Linked DNA regions of Homo sapiens: all the other regions are reported to be linked to region 3. The links are microRNA targets in miRTarBase. Many come from high-throughput screens and were not tested one by one. Region 3 holds a microRNA gene; each other region holds the end of a gene's coding sequence.

What was found. The annotated mature microRNA hsa-miR-148a-3p reads UCAGUGCACUACAGAACUUUGU and lies in region 3 at 3,537-3,558, shown strand. An mRNA with a match to its seed (bases 2 to 7 or 8) in the 3' UTR can be bound and repressed. Matches are read on the target gene's strand: a 7mer-m8 pairs with bases 2 to 8, a 7mer-A1 pairs with bases 2 to 7 and ends in A, and an 8mer does both.
Region 1: the mRNA of SLC12A7 is a reported target of hsa-miR-148a-3p. Seed matches in the 3' UTR shown: 7mer-A1 at 2,912-2,918, 7mer-A1 at 3,205-3,211, 8mer at 3,262-3,269 and 7mer-A1 at 3,551-3,557.
Region 2: miRTarBase lists MRPS27 as a target of hsa-miR-148a-3p. Seed matches in the 3' UTR shown: 7mer-m8 at 3,952-3,958 and 7mer-m8 at 3,877-3,883.
Region 4: miRTarBase lists WAPL as a target of hsa-miR-148a-3p. Seed matches in the 3' UTR shown: 7mer-A1 at 4,002-4,008.
Region 5: miRTarBase lists BMP3 as a target of hsa-miR-148a-3p. Seed matches in the 3' UTR shown: 7mer-m8 at 4,491-4,497.

Annotation. Positions count from the first base shown.
Region 1 is chr5:1,049,016-1,054,744 of GRCh38, reverse strand. SLC12A7 (solute carrier family 12 member 7) reads left to right here. Exons shown (of 24, transcript NM_006598.3): 23 at 1,263-1,396; 24 at 2,294-4,361. The coding sequence ends at 2,385. Among named protein-coding and RNA genes, the nearest start is that of MIR4635, 11 kb to the left of the region's middle.
Region 2 is chr5:72,216,171-72,222,024 of GRCh38, forward strand. It overlaps MRPS27 (mitochondrial ribosomal protein S27), which reads right to left. Exons shown (of 11, transcript NM_015084.3): 11 at 3,233-4,978. The coding sequence ends at 4,739. Among named protein-coding and RNA genes, the nearest start is that of MIR4803, 50 kb to the left of the region's middle.
Region 3 is chr7:25,947,626-25,953,479 of GRCh38, reverse strand. It overlaps MIR148A (microRNA 148a), which reads left to right and starts at 3,494; the gene lies at 3,494-3,561. The region is part of intron 6 of LOC105375199 (a long non-coding RNA gene); the gene reads left to right. RefSeq lists silencers at 1,721-1,930, 2,051-2,270, 2,401-2,540 and an enhancer at 5,384-5,453.
Region 4 is chr10:86,434,036-86,439,633 of GRCh38, reverse strand. It overlaps WAPL (WAPL cohesin release factor), which reads left to right. Exons shown (of 19, transcript NM_015045.5): 18 at 1,619-1,714; 19 at 2,026-4,378. The coding sequence ends at 2,091. Among named protein-coding and RNA genes, the nearest start is that of GRID1, 70 kb to the right of the region's middle. RefSeq lists a silencer at 1,328-1,622.
Region 5 is chr4:81,052,264-81,058,117 of GRCh38, reverse strand. BMP3 (bone morphogenetic protein 3) reads right to left here. Exons shown (of 3, transcript NM_001201.5): 3 at 491-4,773. The coding sequence ends at 4,582. Among named protein-coding and RNA genes, the nearest start is that of BMP3, 24 kb to the right of the region's middle. RefSeq lists a silencer at 5,791-5,840.

The sequences.
Region 1 (5,729 bases), not on the chromosome of region 3:
AAGCGGATCAAAGGGCGTGAGCCTGGATAGCGTCCGTGGGGCCTCTCCATGACCCTGCATGGGCGGCCTCTGTCTGTCCGCCGCCGCCCCTCTGCGTCCAGGGCGCTGGTGACCTCCCCCAGGGGGCCACAGTCACGACCGCACGGCTGCAGCTGGCCTGAGACCCGCTCCGACTTTCAAGTCCACACACGGGCCGGGTTTTTCCAACACAGAAACGCAAGTGCTCCCCTCCGCCCAGCGTTTCCCCAGGTGGCCTCCTGGAACGCCAGTTCTGCTGCAGTTTAGGGGCCTGCCTAGGAGGGGACCGTGGGGTAGAGGAGGGAGATAAGCTCTGTCCCGCAAGGGCCTGAGCACCTCACAGCATGATTCTGCAGTGTCCCCAAACCTACTTGGTTGGGGAGCCTCCTGTGGGGCTGTGGCCGGGCCCAGGCCGCCAGGGACGCTTTGAGACATGGACCGGCCACAGCAGCTTCAGAGAGCAGACAGGGAGGGTCGTGGAGCAGAGCTGCGTTGTGAGGACGGAAGGCGGGGGCTGGACGGCCACACGGTGGAAGTGCTTGTCCTTTAGCCCTTGGCCAGACAGGGGCAGGGTGGGCCGTAGGAGGGGACCCAGTAGTGGCCACTGAGGGCCTGTGCCTCCAGCTGAGTCCTCGGCATACCCTGTCCTTGTCAGGCCTGGGAGCTTCAGCAGCAACGGCTGCACAGGCCGGTGTGGGGGACTCTGGGCCTTTCCTTCCTGAGCTTCCGGCCCCTTGGACCCAGTTGTATCAGGACCCTCGGAGAGGAGGCCATGTGTGCCCAGCCTGACGGGTCTGTGTTTGGCAGTGTCTGACGTGGGGTTTAGGGGCGATGATGTAGATGTCAAGAGAAGCGTGTCAGCCTTGAAGGCGTCAGGCACATGGGCCACCCAGACGGCTTCCACTGTTCTGCCTGCTTTGCAGATGTAGATGTAGTTAGGAAAGCGCTTGCGGTTTGTGTTGTGTGACTGTAGCCCTTAGAAGCTTGGCAGCCTTAGTGGGCTGAGTTCTAGGTCCCTGGAGGCCAAAGCATCCCGCTGCTGAACGCCCGCCCTGGCTGCAGTCAGCGCCTTTCGCTCGGAGCCGCCACTTCTGCATCCTTCAGGGTCAGAGAATCCGCCTGATCCTGACTCACACAGCCCTTTCCAACACGTGTGAATGCAGCTCATCAGGGCTCAGCTCAGCCTCGTGTCCGGAGCGTGGGGTGCACCCGCCGCCCGCTGACCGTGCCCACCTCCCCTGCAGGGACCAGTCCAACGTCAGGCGGATGCACACGGCTGTGAAGCTCAATGGCGTCGTCCTCAACAAGTCCCAGGATGCGCAGCTGGTCCTGCTCAACATGCCAGGTCCTCCCAAAAACCGGCAGGGAGACGAGAACTGTATCCTTTCTTGCAGTGTGCCTGCTGAGCGTGCGGGCACCCCCTGGTGGCTTCTCGCTAAGACCTGGGTTTGTGGGTGCTGGGAGTGAGGCTGGCTTCCCGCCTCTCCTTCAGCCCCAGGCTCTGGGAGCTACGACCGGGATGCAGTGGGGCTCTGAGCCCAGTGGTGACCGGGCCAGAGTTGGGGCCAGCCCTGGCATTGGTGTGGGGGAGGGAGGGCCCGCCTACAGTACCAGCCCCACTGTCCCCAGGTGCTCAGGGCTGCCCTGGGGCTGGGAGGCTCCCTGTCATGCATCCCCACAGCAGCTGTGCATTCTGGGACCTCCGCTGGGGCTCAGCCCCACCCTGCGCCGACAACGGTGGGAGGTGAGGAGCCCAGCTCTCGGCTTTAAGGCCACAATTGGTCGCAGCTTTGGGAATTTGTGCTTTGGAAGGAGAACTCCGCAGTGCATCTGGGCGTATTGGCACAGACAGGGTGACGCCTGGCACATCCCTGCCAGGTTGGCACCAAGAACTGGGGCCAGTGAGGGCATGTCCTCCATGCGTCCTGATCGGAATCCGTGGCCCAGGTCCCCTGTAGGCTGGTGAGGACCCAGTCCCGTGGCTGGGGTTCCCTGTCGGGTGGGGTCAGCACCGTGGGCTGTGTCGCTGTCTCTGCTCGTCCTCCCTGTGGCCACGGTGCTCCCTCTCTTTCCCGAGCACTGGCCCCTCTCTCCCCTGCCCTGCTCCTCCCCGCCTGGGGGGTCTCTCTAATCCCCACCTCTCTTTTCACCTTGGCTCTGGGTTTCTCAAACCAAATCTTAGCTAACCAGGAGAGGATAAACCTCACTCCTATCACGATTTCAGCTACACACGCTCAGGTAAGATCAGCTGTGGCCTTAACTCTGTTGACCACAGACATGGAGTTTCTTGAAGTCCTGACCGAGGGGCTGAACAGAGTCCTCCTGGTCAGGGGTGGCGGCCGGGAGGTGATCACCATCTACTCCTAATGCCCAACAGCATCACGGCACTCTGGGACAGGCACGGAGGACGGCGTGGGCAGCCTGGGCCTGGGCTTGGCCCAGGGAAACAGACGGCAGACACACCTGTCCCCCAGTGATGCCGCCCAAGCTGCCCATGGGGCTTCCTACGGAAGTTTCTAGGCCCGTCACCTAGGGCTCTCCTGTTCAGCCTTAACAGGCTCAGCAAATCAGGGCGTGGCTGGACGATTTCCTTGCATCTGAGGGCAGACGCTGCTACCGGAGTGACCTGGACGTGGCCAGATCTTCTCGCAGGTCACAAGAAGCCAGTGAGCCCTTGCCTTGGTTTCTGGAAGTTCTTTTCCTTGGCTGGATTTACCCAGTGGTTAGGTTGCATTTCTACCCCATCCAGAACATTCTTGGAAGAGCACCCGGAGCTGAAGCTGTCCCTGATGATGAAGGTGAAACGTCAGCCCTGGCCATGGCTCCGCTCAGGGCCCCGGTCACCTCCGAGTCACTCTGTTCCTTGACTGTCTTTGTGTTTCTGTACCTCAAGGCACTGAAGCTGGAGGACTCTGTCCATGCCCGTGTCACCCTCGTGTGGGAGCCTCTGGGCTCGGCAGGTCCACATTTCATGAGCTGAGGCGTGGGCCAGGGCCATCTGGAAAGGGAACTCGGCTTTTCCAGAACGTGGTGGATCATCTGTCGGGTGTGTGGTGAACACGTTCAGTTCATCAGGGCCTACGCTCCGGGAAGGGGCCCCCAGCTGTGGCTCTGCCATGCCGGGCTGTGTTTGCAGCTGTCCGAGTCTCCATCCACCTTTAGAAAACCAGCCACTTCTTTTCATAAGCACTGACAGGGCCCAGCCCACAGCCACAGGTGCGATCAGTGCCTCACGCAGGCAAATGCACTGAAACCCAGGGGCACACGCGCGCAGAGTGAACAGTGAGTTCCCCCGACAGCCCACGACAGCCAGGACTGCCCTCCCCACCCCACCCCACCCCAGGAGCACGGCACACAGTTCAGCCTCTGAGCTGGCTCACACGTGCCATCCCCACCCCGGTGCTCCAGGGAAGGAGGACACGGACCCGACGTGGGAGGTCCTCAGGCAGCAGTGGCGCCTGGTGTCAGGTCTGTCTGGCTGAGTCCCGGGCGTCCCCTGCCATGGCCTGTGCCTTGCATGGAGGCGGCGGTGGCACTGAAGAGATAGCTTTCAAGGGCCCAACACTTTGCACTTCGGCTGGCTGTGAGTTTCTGCTTTGTAGGTTGTGGTCACATTTGCAGGCTGCGGGCAGTGGCACCGACTTGGGCCTCCCTTTCTATGTGGCATATTTATTTATTTAAACACCCCAGGGAGTTACGTGGTAACAAGGTTGTCCATAAAGAGGTTGCTTCTATATACTAGAGGCCCCAGATGGCCAGGCCTTGGGCTACGTCTGGCTTGCATGGTCTCCCAAGGGAATCAGCCCCATCAACAAAGTTCAAATCGGGGCAGAGGCTGCACTTGTGCCCCCAGATGTTTCTGAGGAGCCAGACTAGGGCTGGCATTGCTGTAGAGTGACGGCTGCTGCCCAGAGCGTGTCCCAGACATCACAGCGGGGCTCAGCAGTTCCCACAGCCTCTGCCTGCCTTGGCTAAGCATGAGTTAAGCAGCAAAACGCTCCTCCATGTCTGGATGGGGCCGGCAGGTCCTGTGTCCCCTGCACCTGGAGGAGAGCAGGCTAGAGGCACAGCGGCCACATGGTGCTGGCTCTGAACGTTGGTTGGTGGCTGGAAAACAGCCCTGCTTCTGAGGGCCGCTCAGTTCTGCACACGAAACCACCTCCTGAGGGCTCAGCTCTGCCCCCGCCCTGGGCTGCAGCCTCTGCACGCAAGCACCAGGCATCCTTTGTGTTGTCAACTCCGTGTAACCAGTAACTACAGCCATTTACAATTGACTCCGTTTCCTTTTGTAGGTTTCCCTGTCTGTCTGTGTTAGTAGAAAAATAAAATCCTATGAAATCTGAGTACGTTGAAGAATCTCTTGAGTCTCATTCAGCATGAAAGACAGCTGGAGAAAATGTACTGGCCGCCCCTTTTCTAGCAGGAGCGTCAGGGCTGACCAGCCACAGCCAACTCAGGTGGCTGAAGAGTGACCATATGAATTGGACGAGGGCTTCCAAATCATGTCATCGGCTTGGAAATGACCTTACCCCAAACTTCCTAGTGCTGTGTGTTGAAGTGACCCAATCTCTGTATTTCTGAGACAGTCTCTGTTGCCTAGGCTGGAATGCAGTGGCGTCACCTCAGCTCACTGCAACCTCCGCCTCCCAGGTTCAAGCTATTTTCCTGCCTCAGCCTCCCGAATAGCTGGGATCACAGGCGTGTACCACCACGCCCAGCTAATTTTTGTATTTTAGTAGAGATGGGGTTTCACCATGTTGGCCAGGCTGGTCTCGAACTGACCTCAAGTGATCTGCCTGCCTCAGCCTCCTAAAGTGCTGGGATTACAGGTATGAGCCACCATGCCCGGCCATTCGATTTATAATTTAATTTATATAAGGATGGAGGCACCAGAGAGTCCGCCATGAGTGGGGACAGCGTGTTCTAACTCGTGAGATGCCAACTCACACCTGTGATGGTCACAGCCAAAACCAGAGAATCGCGGGGAGGACGTGCGGAATCGGACCCCTCTTGCAGGGTTGTAGCTGCACGGGAAGGGCCTGTGGTTCCTGAAAGTGTGAGAGACAGAGCCGCCCCTTCCCCGGCAGGTCCACTCCTGGTGTGTGGCACAGCCTCAGGAACGGGTGCACGCAAGTTCACAGCAGCCAAAATGGATGCAGCCCGAGAACATGCTGAGTCCATGTGGGCCGTGCCTGCTGCAGGCCTCTCAGCTAGAACCAGGAGCCAAGCTTGGAAGCCTCACGCTCGGGAGGAAGCTAGACACAAAGGGTCTCACGCTGTGGGACTGCACTTAACACGAAATGCCAGAGTGGGCCAGGCACAGAGGCAGGGGGTGCACTGGCGGGTGCTGGGGGTGGGTCAAGGGGAATGGGGGGAGATGGGGGATGGGGGGAGGCTGCTTACAGGGTATGGATTTCTTTTTGGGTGAAAATGTTCCGAAATGGCTGTGGTGAAGCTTATGTGACTGAACATGCTGGAACACTGCCTCGTGCACGACGAAGGGCGAATTGTGTGTGTGAAGCTGCCGGGCACCGTGTCCAGTGGGCCTGACACATGGTGGACAGGAAGGGACACGGCACAGGAGGGTGGCGGGTCCTGCTCTGGCTCTCGGGTCACAGGAGAGTGACCGTGAGAGCAGCGTCGTCCTCGGACCCCCGAGGGGTGAGTGCTGGCTGCACCCAGGCATCCACACCCGGGACTCAGAGCACGGG
Region 2 (5,854 bases), not on the chromosome of region 3:
ATACCTGCAGCAAAAAGAAAAAAGTAGAATGCTGCAGTATATTTTCAGGGAAGATGCACAAAAGTAAAGACAACAAAGAATGGCAAAACTAATTGTTTTCAGTGTGAAAAAAGGTTTTAATCAACTTTTTTGGTCTCGCTCTGTTGCCCAGGCTGGAGTGCATTGGCTCAATCTTGGCTCACTGCAACCTCTGCCTCCCAGGTTCAATCGATTCTCCTGCCTCAGCCTCCTGAATAGCTGGGATTACAGGTGCCAACCACCACACCCAGCTAATTTTTGTATTTTTTAGTAGAGACAGAGTTTTGCTATGTTAGCCGGGCTGGTCTCGAGCTCCTGACCTCAAGTGATCCTCTGGCCCGGCCTCCCAAAGTACTGGGATTACAGGTGTGAGCCACTGTGGTATAATCAACTTATTTTCAAGGCCTCTGACTACTTCTTGTAGAATCTAAACCAATCTTCTCACACACCTACCTGATTCCACAGCCAACGAGAAGGTCGGAAAACAGGATGCAAGGCTGGGTGCCAAGGCAACACAGCACTGAGGGGAGGATAATACCTTATCATTTTTCTTTCTTTTCTTCTTTCCACCGCCTTGCTTTTTTTTCCTTTTTATGGCCAAGGTAAGTATGGGATGTGGGCCAAAACAAGTTTAATCTGAATTGTTCATTTTAGCTTAATTTAAAGTATTTTCTCATGAACACATCACACAAGCCTCTGTGGAAAGAGGACCCCAGGGCAGCTTGAGGCACTCATATGTGACTAATTAATGCACAAAGCAGGCAATTAATTCCCTTCATTAGAGTTTTTCCCATCACTGGGCTTAAAGTGATCTTCCTGTGAACTCCCACATACATTAACTGTTTGTCTAACGACACCTTTCAGCTGTGTATTGACGGGTGTGGATGTGCCAGCCTCACTAGAATCTAAGTTATTTGAGGGTAAAATCTATAGTTTATTCATCCTTGTAAACTCCATAGCACTTGTATAGTGCCTTGTACACAGTATACACCGAACACTTGAGAGCTTGCGAAAGCAGTGCTGGAACAGACAGTAAGTCTGCTGCAGACAGCAAGCTTATAAGGGGTGGTCAGTGGTACCAAATGGAGCAGAGCATTTAAAAGGAAAAAAAAAAAAAAAGATCACTGTAGTTGATGACCATGTTGTGCAGCAGAGTGGTAAAGCTATAAGCCAAATTCTCAGCCTCTAATGAATGAACAATGAGCCAGTAAGTGTAGATACCCTTTCAAGAAGTTTGGAGACATAAGGAAGGAGACATAGCATGACAGCTTGACTGATGGCAGGGTAAAGGATTTTTTGCTGTTAAAAAGTGTTGAATAAGGTCTTGAATAAGACTGTAGACTTAGAAGAAGAAATCAACAGAGATGCTATAAGACGGAAAGGGAATGCTTGAATGTGTAGAACAGGTGGGCAGGTATGGGCCAAGGTCACAAATGAAGAGCCTAAGCTTTGAAAGGAGGGAGGGGATACCTATTATTTGAAAGTAGGAAGGATGATGGAGAGAACATCTGCTTGTAGTTCTGAGGGCAGGGCTTCGAGCTAACGCAGAACAGAAAAGCTATGGAAGCAAAAATGAGAGTCAATTAAAGGAAGGACTATTGAGTTGAAGAGAACAGCCATAATTTTGTAGAAGAATCTAATCAGCCTAATATTATGACTTTATATATCTACACTTAGTAAGTCAGAACCAAAGAGAAAATGAATGGTGGTGTTATCAGTTTCCTAGGGCTGCAGTAACAAAGTACCAAAAATGGTGTGGCTTAAAATAACAGTTCTGAAGGCTAGAACTCAGAAATCAAGGTGTCTGCAGGGCCAAGCTTTCTCTGACGGCTCTAGGGGAGAAGCGTCCTTACCCCTTCTAACTTCTGGTGTTTGCTGGCAAGCCTTGGTGTTCCTGGGCCTGTACGGTCACATGCTCATCTTCCCTCTGTGAGTCTGTGTGTGCAAATTTCCCCTTTTAAAAAAACACCAAATTGGATCAGGCTGACCCTGATGATCTCACTCTATATTTGATTACCTCAGTACAAACTTATTTCCAACTAAGGTCAGATTCTAAGGGACTGGGGATTAGGGATACAACTTACCTTTTTTAGGGAACACAATTCTACCCATAATAGATGGGTGCAAGGATGTAGGTCGAAGGCTGGCAAGTGAGCCTAGATAAAGGGAGTGAGAGAAAATGAAGATGCTAATGAGAACATGGGGATGGCTGACCATGGGGCCCACACTGGAAGAGAAGCAGATTCTGGAGACCAAGAGTTTGGGTGATGGGGTAAAGGCTAAGGATTAGCAGGCAGGAAATTACAGAGCAAGTTGGTTCAGCAGCAGTCATGGTACGAGACGAGCCTGGGAGAGTGGGGACTTCAGGATCTAAGATCTCGGATTCGTGATGAGGCTGGAGGTTTGGCTGTGACTATGGCAGGTCAGCTGCAGAAGGTAATTTGTTACTGGGAGATGATCCAGTTGAGGTAACCTCCAGAGGCCAGGGCACCAAGAGCAGTTTCTCCATCCACATGGAAGAAATATGGAAGATGACATCAGGGAAAGGGACAAAGGACAACTGTATTGGGAAGAGCCAATTGTGAAGGAAGGCAGGAGAGTATCCTATAGCTCAGGAGATAAGGACATGGGGAAAGGGCAGAATATTTGGAGGGGAAAGACTCCAAGAGTCCTGAGAAATGGGGCACAAGTGTGGAAGGAATCCTGAGGAGGAGGGAACATGGAAATTCCTGTGGGACCACAGTACAGTGGCAGAAGTGGTCTCTTTTGGTGAAGAAGAGAAGTAAAGTACATTGGGGCTGGAGAGGGAGGAAAAATGAAGGCAAAACGATGAGCCAAAGCCTTAACCAGATACTTCATGTTGTGACAGTCATTAATTTACTGGGCAAAAGTTGCCCTTTTGTTTGTGTTGAATGTTCCTCTTAATGTAATGAGAGAGTGGCTGAAAAACTCCTGTTGTTGGTAAACCAAAATGTTGGAACTGACTTTTGGTCACGGCCCTCTACCTAAGTAAGATTCAGCAGCTTTGCTAGTCTAAAGGGCCCTGTGTTGGATCCTGACTACTGCGGTTCTATATGGAGGCCACAGGCAGGGAGAGGAGCAGCAGGAGAGCTGCTTTGTTTCATAAAATGGGGACACTGGTACCTCCCTCATAGGGCTGCTTGGGTTTTCAGCCTACAGTTAAGTCCTTAATAAATATTAGTGGTGGCAGTTATCATTATTACAATAAATCCCATAGTTTAATGGGGGAGGGTTTAAAGTACACTCCTCAAAATCATAGTAACAATAATGAGTCCCTCTCCCTCCTCCCTTTCCCCAAAGATAAAGAGTACACTAACATGATCCCGGAACATTTATTTCCAGAGGCTTTTGATAGAAGAGCACAATCTTGAATAAAATTACACCACTGTACTTAAGGGCAACACTACATAGTAAGCAAAATCTGCTCTGAACCCTTTCACAGAAGAGACACTTCAGAAAGGAATTTTACATCTCCTGACAGTTTTACAACATTCATACCTCTGATGCACTTCAAGCCCCAACCCATCTCTCATTTTCTAACTTCTTTAACAGAAATGTGTGTTCACAAGTTGTGTGTGCATGCACATGTGCCTCTGTGTGTACACAAAAGGCTCATTTTACCTACTTGATAAATGAGCTGAGACGATGTTTTGGGAAAAAAAAAATTGGAAAAAAAATGTTACCCCAACACGATGGAGAAGCCAATCCAAAAAAGCTTCATGCTAGAGCTAGCTTTCTCCTCAGAAACTTACATCCTAAAAACATCCCTATGGGTGCCTAAAAATGGAAATCCAGTGAGTTCATGGCCTTGAGTTCACTCCTGTCCTGAATTTCTCCCAGTGCAGGTCCAGAAGGGCGAGATGTGGCAGAAAGGAGAATGTGGGAATGTGTGAGTATCCCACAGCCAGCTCACAGTGCAGCTTGCACTCAGAAAGGAGACTCAGGGACACAAGGTCTCAGGATGCACAGTTCACCTTGGCCTCATGTACCTGGGCTGGGGAGAGGGAGACCATTCAAAAGCCTGTGCTTGGCCGGGTGTGGTGGCTCACGCCTATCATCCCAGCACTTTGGGAGGCTGAGGCGGGCAGATCACTTGAGGTCAGGAGGTTGAGACCAGCCTGACCAACATGGTGAAACCCCATCTCTACTAAAAATGCAAAAATTAGAAAGGTGTGGTGGTATGCACCTGTAATCCCACCTACTAAAGGAGGCCGAGGCAGGAGAATTGCTTGAACCTGGGAGTCGGAGGTTGCAGTGAGCCAAGATTGCGCCACTGCACTCCAGCCTGGGTGACAGAATGAGACTCTGTCTCAAAAAACAAAAACAACAAAAAACAAAAGCCTGTGCTTCAACCTGACTCTTCAGCCTTGGTTTCTCCCAGTACTGTCACTGGGTCTTAGGAACTTTAATGCTCATAACTAATCCCTGTGCCCCAGGAACTCCATTATGAGCCTCAAGAGTCCTCCTTAAGGTATTCAGCTGGTGACTTCAGTCTGACCACTAGCCACCTGCATAGTTCCATAGCCCTTCTTGGCATCTCGATGGGCAGTCATGGTGCCTTGCCATGTAGGGCACATAGCCTGCTTTAAGAAAAGAAGATGGGTAGAGGAAGCTGAGGCTGTTGTCCAGGCCACTGCTGAGTCCTGGCACGGGGTTGAGTGAAGTTCTTGTGAGACAGGTGGGGCCCTGGGGGACCCTATTAGGCAGATGCCTTTGCTGCTTTCTGAGCCTGGTACTCCTGCTTCGCTTGCTCCCTCTGTTGCTGTTCTCTCTGGATCAACTGTACAAGGTCTAGATGCCACTGCTGCAGATTCTGCTCATAGGTGGCGATGTCCTCTGCTTCACAGGTGGAGAGTTTTTCCTTGACAAGCTGGGTGGTCAGACTTAAAAGACCTTCTGACTCAATTTTGCCCAGAGCTTGAAGCTTAGAATGTAAGGCCTGTTGGAAACAAATGGGAAAAATGAGAAGAAAGGTAGAGAAGTGAGAGAAAGATACAAAGAGGAAAAACTAGCCCTGAGTGACTGACTTTAGATTTGAACAAAAGTTTGCTGACTCGTAGTTTAGTCCTCATTCTAGTGGCCCAGAATGAAGTCACCTGCAAAATAACCACACATTTTGCTGGTAGAAAAAAACCATTTTGTTGGGAAATGGTCATGCTGCCTTTCATTCAGGTGCTGTTAGCTGTGGTTATTTTTTTCAGCTCAGCAATTTTGCTAAGATGCACCACATGTGATTTCTCCCCTTTCACTCAAAAACAGTAAATGGAACTCCATATGCTGTGTCTCCCTGTGTAATTTCTTGTTTTAAACCACAAAGACAGCCAGCCTCTAACAAATCTATGTTTCCACCCTGACCTAACCAAACCAAGCAGCAAACACCAAAAATAAGAATTCTAATATGCAAACAAAATGGCAGAGGCATCTGATAACTGGAGCAAGCCCAACCATACATGTGCCTTCGGAATAACTGAAACAAGTATTTGCCTTTCTGGCATTCCTCTCAACAGACGGAAATCAGTTCAAGGAATAGCTCCCCTGAGTGCCTGCACCGTTAGAAGCGTCTGCCTGCTGTGCTCCACTGCATTGGGTCTTAGGAACTCTAAGACTGCAGGTCAGTCTTTATGTATTGCCTGCTTACAGCTCCATCTGAAATGGCACCTTGGTTTGGTTGGTGTTGTGCTCCTGGAGAAGTAAGTATTAAAAACATTAATCTATTTAAGTACTTTAAGATGTACTCTCTCATTAGAGAGAGGGCCACTTACGGGGCCAGCTGTAGCTTATACCACACATCCCCATGTTCCACAAACAAATGCCA
Region 3 (5,854 bases):
TCACAGGTAAATTCCCTGAGGCCCAGAGTGGTGAACTGACTCACTAAAAGCTCTCCTTACAGGGGTGCTTGGTGAGAACGCACCTTCCTGACTCCAAGGCCAGCTATCTTTCCACATCTGCTGCAAATGTCATGAGGCTAGCCCCCAAGTTGGGACCATTATTAATTTTTCCCCTCAAGTCATGCGAAACATCTCTTGTCCTTTTAATCAGAAGCATATTTTAGGGGCTGCGGAATAATAAGCACCCACATATCCAGTATTAAAAGATAAACTCTGGCCCTTTCCTGGAGTGAGCCTGTTTTCATTTTATCATTGTGAAATGTGGTAGGATTGATGGCAGACAATAACTCCCCACCTCCCCCAGTATTTTATTAAGATCCGTTCTTACAAAGGATAACCGGAGGTTTTCCATCATCACCTCGTTGTCTTTTTTCTAACTTGGTTCGTCTGCTACCCAACAGTAGTAAGGTTACCTCATCCTGGAATCTGATGTACACAACGGTATGCAAACTCTTTCCTTCTCTCCGAAGCAAACAATGAAATGGGAAAACACTGCCATTTTCTGACTGACCTCAATCGCTGAGGGTGGACCCCGCACGTTACATCAGCAGGCTGGCTCCATTACACTGCCCTGCGCTGTGCTCGAGCTACTGAAATATTGATTTTTACAGAGCCGGCGCACACACACTGAAAAATCAATATTCCAGTGCACACAACAGAACAGGCAGCAGAGCGGGGACAAACTCCGAGCCCCAGCAAGCACTGCCGCCGGGCCTTGACCGAGGAGGGGGTGGGGGGCTGGAGGAGACAATGCCTGGGGAGAGGCCCCTGCAAACCCGCGAATGGTCAGATAAACAAACAAGTGTGGAGAGGGAAGAGAAAGGAGAGTGGAGAGAAAGATCCTTGAGGATAAAACAGTTGGAAGGAGCAATGATTTATCTTTCCATAGGGGGAAATGGGGAGAAGGAAAGTAAATTAAGAAGAGTGGATGGGAAGAATTTTCCAGGTAAGAATCTTCCCATAAAAATGTATGTTTTTCTGTATCACCAGGTCAGACTTCAGATGCAACCATTATAAAGATGATACACATACTTTGTTACCTGAGGGAAAAAATAACTAGGCCAGTTCTCAGAAATATTTATATTTTTTAAAATGCAGTCCCCTTCTTTTTCCTTGGTGACTACAGGCCGGCATCAGAGAGTCCGATTTATAACATGGGCTCTACCTTTGCAATGCAGTTACTTTCTTTTCCTTGGGGAGAGGGAAGGAAGGAAGACATCCTGGTCACGTGGCCATTCATCAATTTCCCTTTCTTTCTAGAACAGCATCTTCTTTGGCGTGCTTGGGGAACCACGTTAAAATTGATTCTACGTGCCCGTGACCTCTTCTCAGGGAATTCTGAGCTCCCCCGAGTCACACCCCCATCTAGATGAGGAGAGGAGGACGTGTCCCCTGGTTCAGTCTCGGGTGCCCAGTACCCAGCAGACGTCAGGGTGGAGGCAAACCGGCCTTTCGGTTAGTCCTTGTAGACGTGTTAAAAAAAAAAATCCAGAACTGGCATTTTTACTACTTTTAGTTAGCTCTTTGGCCTCTTTTTATTTGGGGATGGGTGGTGGGCAGTTTATTAAAAGAAACGACTTTTAACCTTGATGAATTCTTGATTTTGCTTTGTCCTAGAATTCCCTTACCGGGAATCTCGCATTTAGTTCTCAACTCCCTGCCAGGGGAGGAAACTGTCCTCCCGAGGTTTCCATTTCGCACTCTGCCCTGCAGCAGCTTCGCCGCCGCCTCCTCCCCAGCCAGGAGACACCGGGCCCAGGCAGGGCTCCGGCTGGGTTTGGAGGAGGGGGCTCCGGGGAAAGCGGGCATTCAGGGGCATCTTGCAAAACGCGGGCTCCCTGGGCCCAGCGGGGCTGGCCGGGGACAGCGCCCGGCCCGAGTGTCGCGGGAAGCGGAACAGGCAGCCTGGCAGAGGCTGGTGGGCAGAAGGGCGGGGCGGGACGTCGAGCCAGGTGGCCACCTGGAGCGCCCCGCCCTCCCAGCGCCGGCCGCGCCCCCGCCCCCGCCCCCACGCGCCACCGCCCACCCCGCCCCCGCCCCCAGCCCCGCGCGGCCGCTCTATTTGCATAAGGAGGCGTCTCCCGGGCCCGCCCGGGGCGCACGTGACCCCGGGGGAGGCGGAGGGAACCTGCTGACTTGACACGAGCCGCTGTGCGGCTCCCCTTGGCGCGGAATAGCGAGAGCAGCCGTGACCTCCGACCCCGCCCGCCGGCAGCCAATAAGAGCGCAGGTCGTCTCCAAACCCAAAATTTCCACGTCGGCAAAAGTCAAGATGGAAGGGAGCGGAGCGGAGCGCGAGGGGGGAGCCGGCCCGGGAATGCCTGGCGGCCGGCGCTGGAGGGGCAGGCTGGGGAGCCTGCGGCGGGCGCACGAGGGGCCACTCGCGAAGGTGTCCCGGCCCAGCGCGACCACCGCCCCCAACCCCGGGAGCCTCTGGGCGCCCCGCACTCCGCCAGCCGCCCGTGCACCCCGGCCCGGGGGACGCAGCCCACTGCCCCTCCGGCCTTGTCTCTTAGGGGTGGCGGGGGATGGAACGGTGGCGAGGGGTTTGGGGGAAGATGGGAAAGCACTTTCCAGACCTGTTGCACGCGCGCAACAGCTGTTCAGGTGCGGTATGTGGGGGGAGGGGGTCTGCTAGGATGGGGGACAGAGTGGTCGCTTATGCTGCAGGGAAAAGGGGGTGCCGGGAGGGGGAGAAGAGCAGTCTTGGGGACTGTGTGCAAGGTTGTGCGCGAACGGGGTCCGCGGGAAGCACTGCCTAATGGGGCAGGGAGAATCCCAAAGAGTGGGTGGGTGGAACGGAGGGGATGGGACGACTTCGACCCGAGTTCCCGGGGCTGGGCGCGGGCGGCTGGAAGACCGGGAATAGAGTACTGGGAATGGCTGGGGAAGGGGGTCTCAGGGGAGGCCCCGCAAAGCGGGTCTTTCTTGGGTCGTCCCATCTTAGGGGCTTTTCCCGGGCCTGTATTTGTTCCCCACCGTTTAACTCTTTCAGCTCCGAATATTCGTCCTCGTGCAGCGCCCCCGCCCCCAGCTTTCCAGATGGGAAGGTAAAAAGTTGCCACAAGTTAGAGTGAGTTAGCTGCTGGCAAAAGTTTAAATAACTACCGAGGGAGGTGAGGGTTCGACCAGGAATGGGTTCTAATCTGAGGACGGGTAGGAAGGAAGGAGAGTGTGCGATTCTTGCAGCCCCTTTGCTGTGACATTGCGACCAGAATTTGTCGAATCGGGCTGTTAAAACACCATTTCTGTTGGGCATTTGCTCCTGCTGACTGCGGCAGTAACTTTCCATAATTAATGACCCGTTCCATTATCGGTCGCATCCTGAACTAAATTGCTTTTAACGAGTTATTCTTCTTTGTCTTAGCTGGGGGGTGGGGGAACACACCTGCAGGAAGAAACTTCTGGAGGAAGACAGCACGTTTGGTCTTTTGAGGCAAAGTTCTGAGACACTCCGACTCTGAGTATGATAGAAGTCAGTGCACTACAGAACTTTGTCTCTAGAGGCTGTGGTCGCCGATGCCGCCAGTGCTCCAGACGCCAGGCCGAGTGGCCCTGGTGGCCACGTCGCTGCGCCTTTCCCTTGGGGGAGGGGCAAGGCCAGAGGGGGTCCAAGTGCAGCACGAGGAACTTGACCAATTCCCTTGAAGCGGGTGGGTTAAACCCTGTAAATGGGAACAAAATCCCCCCAAATCTCTTCATCTTACCCTGGTGGACTCCTGACTGTAGAATTTTTTGGTTTAAAGAAGAAAAAAATAAAGCTTTGGACTTTTCAAGGTTGCTTAACAGGTACTGAAAGACTGGCCTCACTTAAACTGAGCCAGGAGAGCTGCAGATTTATTAATGGGTGTGTTAGTGTGCAGTGCCTTGCAGGAATTTAAACTCTCTACCCTTAAAGAAGGAAATGTATTTGTACAAAAGCCACAGATAATGGTCCTTTTACTCAAGCGACCTGCTGGATAAATGACAGCCTGCAGGGATTGAGTTTGGAGATCTAGTCTCAATTCTGCTTCCGATTTAGATGCAGTTCACTTTTGTTTTTTAAAGTAAGTTTTATTAATGGAAAGGAAGAACTTTTTCCAAGAAAGCATTTTGAAAGCCACTGGGGGAGGGGGACATTTATGCTTTTGGGCTGTGGAGATCCTTTAGGTGGAGAGACTGCTCTCTCATCCCTAGTGGAATGGAGGTTTGGGTTGGTGAGTTTCTATCAATAGCCTGCTCTCTATAGTGGGTCAGTGACTGGCACCAAATTGTAGTCCTGTTCCATGGACATTGCCCTGTTTTGGTTTTATGAGCTTTTGGCCAGGCACAGGACGCAGGGTGGTAGGGAAAAAAGGAAATGGTTCCTGTGCCCGTGGTGCTGACAGGTAAGGGAAGGGCCTTCTGATGTATTTTATGGGATGCTTCAGAAACCTGGGGGTTGCTTGTGTCTCTGGGAAGCCCTTGGTAAAGAAAGCCACCATTTTTTTTACTTAGGTATATTCCAGTGGTTTATCATCGGGAGAGGGATGATAATGGAGGAAGGCTCAATGAGGGAGAAAGTATTCAGCTGCTTGATGTTAGAGCTTAATGGCAGGACCTACCAGTTGCTTTTCACAGAAATGCTGTGTATTGATCCTAAGGCAGCATGTGTTCTCTTTTGTGTGGCCATTATCCATTCTCCCACTTTTCCATCAGTGACTGCTTTGCTTTTGTTCCTCAATCCTTTACCCAAAAATGGCTGAATTATTTCTGTGCAGTTAAATAAAGTGATCCAAACTCAAGTACGTCTTGTGTTCATTTGAGATGTAAGGTATGCTTACTTGAGGAAGAGGATTCTCTTTCCTAGTTCTTATGTCTGTACATCTCCACAAGATAGTCTGAATATACTGAATTTTAAGAAAACTTAAATCAACTTTGTAAGAGAATGGGAGGTAAAGAGTGGAGCGGTTGACTGGGAGAGTAGTCATCCATACAAAGGAATTAGGTCAGGATCTCTCACCTCCAGAGAAAGGCAAGGTTTGGAGTCCCTGACATGATTCAGTCTGGTTTGACTTCTATGCTTAAGTGATTTGCATTTCTCCTGTTTGTGACCACAAGTGAGTTAAGGACTAACCAAGCAGGAGGGCTGTGGTTTACTCTGGTGCTAAGGATGCCAGGAATAGGAACTGGGAAAATCGGCAGTCTTGGGGTGCTTACTGTAAACCTGGCATGGTCTCATAGACCTCAGTCGTTTAGCAATCAGTGTATTTTCACCTCCCGAGCATCAGGTGTTACTCTAGACGTTACGAATGCAACAGTGAACAAAATAGGCCCCGAACCCTGCCCTCTTGGAGGTCTTTCTCATGCAAGAGGTAGACAATACAAATATAAAATAATCAGAAGGGTGATAAACGTCAGGGAAGGAAGAACAAGGAACGCTGGGGAGGCCGTGGTGTTCATTTAACCCAGATCGCTGGGCAAAGGAAACCATCACTAGCAACCTACTTTGCATGGCCTTGGCACTCCTGTCTTTATTTTAGATACTTTATGTGAATGAACCAAACAGGTGCAGCTGAAACTTTAGTCATGCATTGCTTAATGATGAGGATAGGTTCTGAGAAACGTGGTGTTAGGCGATTTCATTGTTTTTGCAAACATCACAGAGTGAGTGTTCTTAAACCTGGGTGGTAGAGACTACCACACACTTAAGCTGTATGCCATAGCCTAGTGCTCCTGGGCTACAAACCTGTGCAGGATGGTACTGTACTGAGTGCTGTAGGCAAATGTAACACAATGGTAAGGATTTATTTAACCGTACAAAAGGTACAGTAAA
Region 4 (5,598 bases), not on the chromosome of region 3:
TCCAAACCTACTGGACACTTTTAAAATTTTTCAAATAGGCCATGCTGTATCATGCCTTTTCTTTTTGTACCTGCTATATTCTGTTAAAAAATGCTGTCACTGTCCCTCCCATTGCCTCAGAAACGCTGTATGTCATGTTCTGTAGTGTGTTGATAGAGAAGGGTTTGATTTGGATTAATGAGGGGCTTTCATCCAAAATATAGGAGCTAATCATATATTCTCTATTACAGAGGCGTACTTTTCTACTGAGCAGTTCTCCAGAGACACCTTAGCCACTATTTTGCCCACCACTGTGATAGCTTTTGGTGGGAGGATCAGTTTGAATGTGTGTAACTGATATCTTCAGCACATGAGTACTTTAGCAGTGTTTTGATTAGATCTTTTCTGAAGCTGTATTCATCTCATTTTTTTGCTGCTTTCTAATTTTGCGAGTACCCTGGCATGGGAATAGGAAAAAGGGGGTGGGTAGTGGCAAATTTCTGAAGAGAAATATGTCATCTCTCCTTTTTTGCCCCCGCTAACAAAAGTCGAATTGGGAGCTTTTGTGTGTTTTCTTTTTGTTTTTTGGTTGGTTTTGTTTAACCCTTTACCTTGTGTCCCCAAACTTGGGACAGTATACTTTCTTTTGCCCCTTACTACAGGTGAACCTTCCTAAAAGATTTTTTCTTTTTATTCTCCGTAAAACATTTAAAGCATTCTTTAATGAAATAGTTTTTTAAGCAGGTTGTGTAATGTTTTCCATGTAACAGATTGGTTTATATATAGTTTGGCTGCTTCTTGCTAATAATGAAGGGTTTTCTCTCCTGATATTGTCTGAGAATCTATCATAGATGAGGTTAGATTGCCTTTGGAAAGATGCTTCTAGTTAATTCCTGTCCTATATAATTAGTTGAATTCATCTGTGAAGGATGTGAATTTTTCTTTGATCTTTTTATTTCATGAGCAGCTTTGTGAGTACATTCTCAGGTCTAAAGTCCTCACCCTCTTCTCCTATTCCCCCAGGGCCCCCAGTGAAACACACACATACATTAAACAGTGCAGTTTGTTATTTCAGGCCTTTTTCTTTGCATTTATGAAAGTAGGTCGGCATGCTGCCTCACACCTGTAATTCCAGCACTTTGGGAGGCCAAGGTGCGTGGATTACTTGAGCCCAGGAGCTCGAGACCAGCCTGGCCAACATGATGAAACCACGTCTCTGCTAAAAATACAAAAATTAGCCAGGCATGGTGGCACGTGCCTTTAATCCCGGCTACCCGGGAGGCTGAGGCATGGGAATCACTTGAACCCAGGAGGTAGAGGTTGCAGTGAGCTGAGATTACACCACTGCACTCCAGCCTGGGTAACAGAGTGACTGTTTCATTTAAAAAAAAAAAAAAAAAAGTAAATGTGTACACAAATATTTCTTTGTAGCTTTTGCCAACTTTACCTTTCTCCTTTCTTTCTGAGGGTGAGGTAGGAAATCACATGCAGAGTGAGTGTGGAAAGAGAATAAATAACCACGTGTTCCAAGGATCTTAAAAATTTGCACCAAGATGTGTGTCAAAACCAACAACATTGTACGAGGTGCAATCTCATGTTTTCTGCCAGCTGACCAATATTTCTTGCTCTGTTTCCTCAGATCAATGTAACCACTGTGCGGGAATATCTGCCAGAAGGAGACTTTTCAATAATGACAGAGATGCTCAAAAAATTTTTGAGTTTTATGAATCTCACTGTAAGTAGCTTTTATTACAGCTTATATGATTTTAAATTTATAATACATTGACAGTAGACATAAAAATACTATGGCCATAGTAAGTGGGAGCAAAAAGGGATTTTCTTTTAATTTTAATAATCGTGTTCTATTTCTTCAAGGTAATCATTGCATGTTATGGCAAATAACTTTATCAAACCCACAATTTAATCTCGGTGTACTTTGATTTGTAGTGTTCAGTTTAGTAAATCTAGAGGTAAACTTTTATTTATACTTCTTAAAATCTGTTAAATATTAACTGTTACTTCCTTTCCCCTTCACCCTGCTTTCAGTGTGCTGTTGGAACAACTGGCCAGAAATCTATCTCTAGAGTGATTGAATATTTGGAACATTGCTAGCTGCTTTACCTTTGCTTCAGGTGCTCGGTAATGCTGGAGCTATCCTTAGACAAAGAAAAGTCAAGTCATGAAAGAAGTCCTTGAAGATATACCAAGAACATTCATCAGTATCATTCGTGTTTGGATTTTTAAGGCCACCTGATTTCTTCGTCATGCATTCGGCATTTGCTAAATGACAGTTACTACATCAATCTGCAACTATCAAAAATGAGGGGAAAAGGTTCAGGCTGTTAACAATTCCATGCAGTATTTAAATACATTTACTTTGGCAGAGTTTATACCCTCCCCTTGTTTTCTTGCTTTATTCTGGGCAAGTTTGAAGGGGAAAATTTGTGCTGCTGTTAGTGCAACTGCTGTGTATGTTGAGCCACTGTTGTCATGCCAGCCAGGTGCAAAGGCAGCTTAGCTACTGAGGTAGCGAATGTTCTGAGGACATTCTAGACAACAGCTTAGTTCCTTTTTCAGGCTCATTTGCTTTTGCTTTTTTGTTGAATGATTCCAATCGTAAATAAAGCTTTTAATAATTTTGTGAATTTTTTGGTTGTTGTTCCCTGAACTACTGTCTATATTTAAAATTAGATGGAATCCAAAGATACACGGGATTAATAGTATATTTTTTTATTCTTGATTAGGTTTGGGTTATTGAACTATTTTTTACTTTTGAGACCACAACCATATTCAATATCATACCATAATGTGTCATAGCTATAGGCACAAGAAAAACAACAGTTTGAGAGAATATTATATAAGATGATGTGCCCTGTTAAAAGGAGGAGGCAAAATAGTCAAACCCAGGGTAGTTTACACTTAATGCTAGGGAGGCTCTTAAAACATTATTAGATTTTGAGGAAAGACTCTCTAGATATATTTTCTAATGTTCAGTACAATAAATATAAGGAAGCTAAAACACCAATGTGGAATTCCTGTTTCCAGATAACATGTATATTCTTCTATAGAGTGACAGGATCAATTGCATAAGCGCAAAGCCTTAAATTGCTGGTTTAGAGAAGACCCTTTTTTCATTCAGATTCTTTGTTCGTAGAGCAGTTATTTGAAAAACAGTTATGGAACACAAAACATTTTATAGATTTAATATCATAACATTGCAAATTTTTCTTGTATTATTCACACCACTGGTTATACTTTTTTTTTTCCTTTTTTATTGATTGGGCCTGAATACAGGCTTTCTAGAGATCTTTTTCATTAATACTTTTAAATACCTTTCAGGTAGTTACATCATGTTTCTTCATTGGATTTGTAAAACTTGAAGCCATAAAAATATTAGTTTGGTGTGTATTGGGGAAAATAGCTAAAAGTCTAATTTTTACCCATTTAGACTTTGTTATTTCCTTGTATAAAGTGACAAATCGGGGCTCTTGTATCAGTGCCAGCTGTAATGTTTTTAAATGCAGTGGCTGCCTTCTATTGTCTTCCTATTTTTGATAATGCAGATTGTTGGGAAATCTGTAAGGAAGTAACTGATTCCAGGCAAATTGTTTTCTTCCTTCTACCCACCCCAACCCCTACCCATCACCTTTTAAGAACATAGTACGCCAGTGTAACGTGGGAACCATTGAGATTGTATTTGCCCTGAGTATTAAAGCTAGCTTAGCAAAATACTTTTAAAAACATATTGGTAAATGATACCCGTAAAATTAAATTAGTTATATTTTATTTTAAAATGCAAAATACATTGATATTTATTAATCATTGGATTTAGGGAAAGGGACAGATTTTTGGTGAACCTGACTTGTGGCAGATGGTAAGGAATATTATAAAACATTTGGATGAGAACAATCAGGGCGAACTGCATTTTTCTGTTACACTGGTAATCATTTGAAAATTGATTTACCTCAGTGTTTAACAGTTTTTTGTTTTGTTTTGTTTTTTAAATAATAACTAATTGTCGAGCACTGATAGAGATGCAGATTTTGGTGGGGGGAGGTGGTGGGGGAGATAATCACTTCACCAACTGCAGTGCATTTGTGTGTTTTTAACCCTCAGAGAACTCTGCATTTTAGGGTACTTGAGGCTGACTTAACTAAAAGTTTTAAAGTAACCTTTTTTCCATTGTAAATATTTCTGTAAATACTACCAATTGGAAATTAGAACAGTAGAGTACTTTTCTGAATCCAATCCTATTTTTATTTTATACAGTATTTCTCAGCTGTGATCTTTGGAGCAAAAGCCAACGGCAGGAAAAAATAGTTTGTACCAGTTTCATGAAGTATGTCTTTGGGTTTTTGTAAATAATTTTAACTCAAATAAAATTGCTACTTTCAATACACATGTTGTCTTTAACATAAGTCTATTGGAGGACAGAAGTGTCACAAACTTTATATATAGCCGACTCTAATGGGAAATACACTATCACTTAACACATTTAACCAGTTTTTGTTAAATATTTTATTATTTCTCCATGTTTTTAATAATACTCATCTGAATATAATGTGAACTCAACAACTCAGGCCAATTAGGGACTGGATTTTCAGTTAGGCCCTTGGCATACTTAACTGTTTTGATTTAGGTTATTTTTTGCTCCTATGAGTATGATCCAAGACATCTTTGCTTCTGAGGTTTTACACTGCTTTTTAGTTTTTCAGTTTTCTTCTTAATTGTCAGCCCTTAGGCATCCTGCATTTACAAGTAGATTCCTCAACTTCTCCTTACTGCTTTTAGCCACAAAACTAGATTGAAGGATCTCTCCTGGGAGTTTCCATTACTCTCCCCACTTAAACATGAGTAAGAGTGGTTTCAGGATGCAGGCTATGGATATAGAAAGACAAATCACACAGAAAATTTGAATCCTTTTTCTGATACATGCTTATTGACTTTGAGTAAATTCTTGAACCATTAAGCCCGTTTCCTCAAAACAGGAAAAACAGGGATAGTACCTACCTCATGGTTGTGAAAAGTAAGTACATGTGAAGCATTAGCACAATATTCTAAACTTAGGATGGCTGGGCACAGTGGCTCACACCTGTAATCCCACCACTTTGGGAGGCTGAGGCGGGCAGATCACTTGAGGTCAGGAGTTCAAGACCAGTCTGGCCAACATGGTGAAACCGGTCTCTAATAAAAATACAAAAATTGGCCAGGTGTAGTGACACACACTTGTAATCCCAGCTACTTGGGAGGCTGAGGCAGGAGAATTGCTTGAACTCAGGAGGCGGAGGTTGCACTGAGCTGAGATTGTACACTGCACTCCAACCTGGGAAACACAGCAAGATGCCATCTGAAAAAATAAATAAAAATAAGTAACCTTAATTTGGCAATGGTAGCTTTTATCGTTTCACTATTTTGTATCAGGAAGGTGAAATATTCTAAACAACAATGGAGTAGCATATTGTTATATTACTGAGGTCAGTGGGGCTTGGGTTACTTTAACGGCAATTCTACAATTGCTGTTTTCAAATTGATCTTGTTAATATTAATGACTAATAAACGAGGGAATTGAACAAACTTCAGTAATCATTAAAGTATTTTAAGCATGGGGTTGGGGCGCGT
Region 5 (5,854 bases), not on the chromosome of region 3:
TTCAAGATGATCTTTAAAATTTCCTTGTAGTTCCAAAATGCAAACATACACAGTGTTACAAAGATGGATTAAAATAATAAAAATAATATAAAAGCATATTTTATTTCTTAATTTCAGGTCATTTTTTTTCCTTAAAGAAAAAACTATGGCCTAAACAAAAAATGGCTAGAATATATCTCAATGATAAGATTAATTAAATTTAGATAGTTATCATTCTAAAAGAACAGGACATGGTAAGAATGATAGATGAAATAAAGTTATTGTCAAAATAGTGAGTCAGACATCCAGAAAGAAACAAAAGTCTCCAACTATAAAATGTGGAGTTTTTGGTTAAAAAAGAAAAGAAAATATGAAACAATTTAAGTTGAGTTTCTCAAGCTTGAAAGATATATTTTTCCTGATGGGTATATTTCAATCTTGTTTTACAACGATAATCATGTTATGTTAAGAGTAAGTTACGATGCTCCATTTAGAATACCATTTGAAAATGTTCAACTCTATGCTTAAGCTTTATTACCTCTTTTAAATGCAGCACACTTGAAAATGTCTGGAAATATAGTATTTCCCAATAAGTAAAAATGAATGGTCAATGAAGCAATTTTTATTTCCATACTGTATAATGAATAGCTTTTCATTACTGAAAGAAAATGATACAAATTCAACAAAGCTTATACATTGGTAGTGAAGTATCCTTCACAGTTTCACTGCAATATACCCTCTAAGTGGATTTGACTAAAGAACCAAACTGCATTTTGCATCTAAAAACTGTAGTAAAAAGGAATTTTTCTTGCTAAAAGTATTATCATAATTAAGGATGAAAATTATTATTATAGGAAGGCAATAGTCATTAAATAAATTAAAAGCATCTTTGAACCTTTTCCATATACATATATTATATATATATATATATTTAAAATTGCCATTGACTGTACAAGTATTAAACATTTACAGAAACTGTGGAAAGCTGAAGGGAAGGACTGGCTTTTAGAAAACAAGGATCATTTTATCACTTATAAACTACATTAAAATACAACTCAGAGGAAAAAAGAGCTATACAGAAAAGTCCAACTTACCCAAGATTTCTTATTTAATCTCTTCTTTAATCTTACACATCAGGTGTGCATAGCTATGCCTAACCCAACTTTGATTCAATAAGAAGTCAATGCCCAGACATTAGTTACTTGTTAGCACAGAGAAAAGTGAAAGCAGAAAGACTAAACTGAAAAACTAAACTGAATGAATTATACAAATATTTTTAATAAATCAGACTCTTAGCAGTATTACTCACATTTGATTGCCTATGAAAATATTAAATGGGCAATAAGAGTTTTATTCAGAAATATTAAGGTAAAAAATCTTAACATATAAATGATCATCAGTTAATATACAGCAAAGGGAATGTAAAAATTTATCTGGAATGTTATAGTCCTGAGATCTGAGGAATCCAGTCTTCCAGTTTAAGTTCTACAATCCCAAATCCTGTAAATTGTATATTATTTACACAGGTTACAACAAAGTATTTTTAAAATATTCTAATTGACTTTGGCAGTCCCTTAATTTGAATTCAAGAGAACAGTTATTGAGAAAAAGAATTCTTTTTATCAAATAAAAAAATTAGCCAGGCATGGTGGCGGACACCTGTAATCCCAGCTACTCAGGAGGCTGAGGCAGGAGAACTGCTTGAACCTGGGAGGTGGAGGTTGCAGTGGGCCGAGATCACGCCACTGCACTCCAGCCTGGGCGACAAGAGTGAAACTCCATTTAAAAAAAAAAAGAAAAAGAATTATTTTTTTCAGTAACTGACTGTGTGTGTGTGTGTGTGCACACTGCATGGGGTAGAGAGATTACTTGTGGGGGAAGAGAGAGAGAGAGTATTATGCATGATTTAGCAAATGGAGTTTATAATTGTAGCTTCTCTTTTCATGAATGCCAATTTAATAATTTAATATCAGGAGATTTCTAAAGCTTCTGTGTAGGAATTATACAGAAACTAGTACCTAACAATTTGTAAAACAGGCACTTACTAAATTTTCTAACTACTCTTAGTAAATCTGTATTAATTAAAATATTAATACATTTACTTCAATCTCTACTACTGAAAGATAATCTTGCTTTATTCTTTGGGAATAAAACTCTTCCAATTTAAACCATAATACATCCTCAATTCATTAGTAAAATGATAGTTACAAAGCACCCAGAAAAACTGCTGGTTAAAACCTATTTCCATTGCTAAGAGATTACCCAAGTTCTTTCATTGTGTTGTAATTTTATATCAATTGCTACTTAAAATATAATCTTAACTAGTTAGTACCTGTAAATTTTATTATGTAGTGGGTTTTTGGCCATTGTGGGGTGCAATCTGTAATAACTAGGCATTGATTCAAATTAAGAAAGGTAATAAACAGGCATTTGGATATAAGAAGGCTAAGAAGTGATACTGGGAATTGCCAGAAGTTTTGGTTGATACAGCTCTAGAAAAAAACCTAAATTTAGAATTTCACCAAATCTACCAATGAAAAAGTTTTCTTTATTGAAAAACAGTACGATCAGGATGGTGGCCACACTCTGGCCCCCTTCTATCATATACTTTTATTTTCAAATGTTTGAGAACATGTATTAAAAAGTAATTTTATCCTCCATCTCACTTTGAATCTTTAATTTTATGCTACTGTAAGAACTAGAAGAAAGCATGGTAACTCAGGCACCAGAACTTCACTCATTTTTTTTAGAACTGGTGTGTCTCACTCACAGAATTAACACACACCCACACCAACATTTGTGTACCCCAAGGTGTCAAAGAGCTTCTTTTCATGAGTTATTCTTTTAATGGGTTTGCAATAAAATACCACTTAAACCAAAGCGAATGCCATACTAATTTACAAACAGCGAAGTATAGGATGTTCTTTCATTTAGTTTATTAAAAGAGGGACTTACAGTGTTTTTATATCTATCACTATCATTCCTTCAAGGAAGACGGGTGTGAAATAGCTGGAATTATAAACTTAACCCTTCCAGCTCATGGCCAGCCTCTTCATTTTACCAGTGAGGACACTAAAGACACACAGGTAACACAGTGCCTTTCACAAAATAGATGCTCAAAACATATTTATTAAATGACTGAACCACCATAATTAGCTACAGGCAGAGACAGAACAAACTCCACGTCTTCTGATACTGCACAGCCTCCAAAATGGCTGAGATATTTCTAAGTATCAGATAAGACGGAACTAAAATGAGGATTAACCACAGATTAACACCAACAATGATCTACGGCCTGAAAGCATTTCCATCACACAAATAAATATAGTGAGAAGAAGGATATTGAAATAATTTTGAAGACTAAAGTTATAAGAGGACACATATATGTATGTGACACATAGAAATGGAAAGCAAAGACAAACAAGTGTCTATATTTGATTCCCATACCTGACGAATAATGTTTTGTAAGCTTTGCTAACTTGTAGATTTCGTGACTGAGCCAAAAGCCCTGATCTATGTGAAAAAGTGCCTGACTTAGATGTGACTGAAGAATGATATTCAATATTTGGTTATGGTTAAATTGGTCATTTAAGAAGATCTTCAATATTCTACCAGTTTTTGGGCCTCAACATCTACCAATAACTTCATAGGAAGTAAAGGCATATCAGGAGAATTAAAGAGTTAATGGCTTTAGGAAGGATTTTTAAATTCAATTTAGAATAAATAAAAGCATTTGTGAAAAAGAAGTACAAAAGAGGAATTACACTTGTGTTTTCAAAAACTAGGTTTCTGATTCCTTTTTCTGGTAGGAAATGAAATGAAAACAACTGTATTTGCAATTAAATAGCTGGGTCAAGTGGTAACTCTCTGTATATGCTCTTGAATTATTCTATCATATTTGGCAAAGTTCTTATAACTGAATGGTGTTTGCCAAAATACAAAATTAAAAAAAATAAAGAATCCTGTGTAAACTGAATTATAAAACCATATTAAGCAAACCATCCTACAGAGGGCACAGGCACCTGGCGCATGTACGCACATACATACACACTAACGCTCAGCATAAACTTTCCATTACACTTAGACAATGACTTGTGGAGGAAAAACAAGGATAAACAAGAGTCTCAAGAACTTAAGAAAAACATCAGAGTTGATTATTTAGCACTTTCTCAGGATTCTAAGGCAATAAGCCTAATTCAAAACGCGAAATTGTTCTCTATTTCCCATTAGTCATTAAATGAGATAAATGACAAGCTATTGCTGCTTCTCCATTCTGTTTTCAAAGAACATTACAAAAATAAACCAGTGTGTTCTCTAACAGTTCTAAAAACAGTTTGATAAGTTGTTGTGTTTGATTACAAAAAGAGAAATAGATGTCCATATTTACTAAAAATCTTGCTTTAAGTTACATTCAGAAACAAATACAGTTCTTTTCCTTGGTGGCAATCTTCAGTCTATTTGCTCATTCCCCTCTGACTATAGAAATAATCTTTTGAAACAAAATGCATTGGCAGTGCAAAAAAAAAAAAAAAAAAAACAGGAAGAAGTCCATAAAAATAAACTAATGATTGAATTAAGCATTCAAATGAGTTCTTTGCCAGGTTATCTGCAAGCGCAAGACTCTACTGTCATGTTAGGGTATACTTTAAGCACTACATTCTTATTTTCATCAAAGAATAAAATACTGAGTGAGGACATCTTTTCTGGTACACAGCAAGGCTCAGGAATCCCAGGAACGACCCCCACAGCTCTCACTATACTCTGGATGGTAGCATGATTTGATGGCTTCAAAGACTAGAGAAAGAAATGAAAGAAGAACACATATGTTAGGTGGAACTGCGTTTCCACTCCTCAGTCCTCATTACACAAAATGCTTATCTAATGAATTTGTTTCAACAATTTAATAAAACCTCTGGCATCATTATACATTAAGCCCAATCGCCTATCCCACCACTACCAAAATGGTTATTATTTATTAAGTGCCTGCTGCATTCCAGGCATATTATATGTAGTATCTCTAATTCTCACAACAAAGCTAACATTTCTTACATTTTACAAAGGCTCAAAAAGCTTAAACGACTTATCTAAGTTCAAATAGCTTGTAAATGGTAGAGGATTTAAACCAAGTTATCTCAGCAAGAATCATTTAATTACAAACAACTTAGCCCCCAAACATGGAATTAATACACTCTACGGTGTTTTCAATAACAGGATTGAAACAAAAAATGATTCGTTATTGACCCTACATTAATCAAAATCCTAACAAGCACTCTATTTAACAGAGATACATTATTGCCACTGCTATATTGATATTTAGGCATTGTTGTTAAAATAAAACCAAGCAGGTCAGAGGGGTATTGATTTATTTAATTTAATAGTTGCCAAGATGGATTGGATGGTTACTATTCCACTATGTAATTATTCAACTCTCCTTAGAAGTACAAACTGGGGGGTAAGAAGACCACACCATTGGCCACTGGGGGTCACTGTTGCTCCACTGGTTTAGAATTAGGCATGGAGTTGTGTTCTAAGAGTGGGCCACGTCCTCTGGGAATTCCCTCTGGGAATTATGAGGGCCTAAAGTTATCCTATGGATACCAGAACTTTCACCAAAGAAGCCTGAGTAAGAATCTTTTCCCTGAGAAAATGCCAAATGGGACCACTAACATTCATGTGAAGCATGTGGTTTTATTTAGAGAACCCCATACAGCTCTGCTCTAGCTAAAAGTACTAAAGGAACAGTCATTTTTGCAAGTCCAGAATGTTAGGTATTGCCAGAGTGGTAAGAACTTCCTAAGAGATGCCCCACTGTGCAACACCTGTGTTTCTCGATTCCTCTTTTAGGCAGGTGAAAGTAGTTTTGTTTTAAACACAT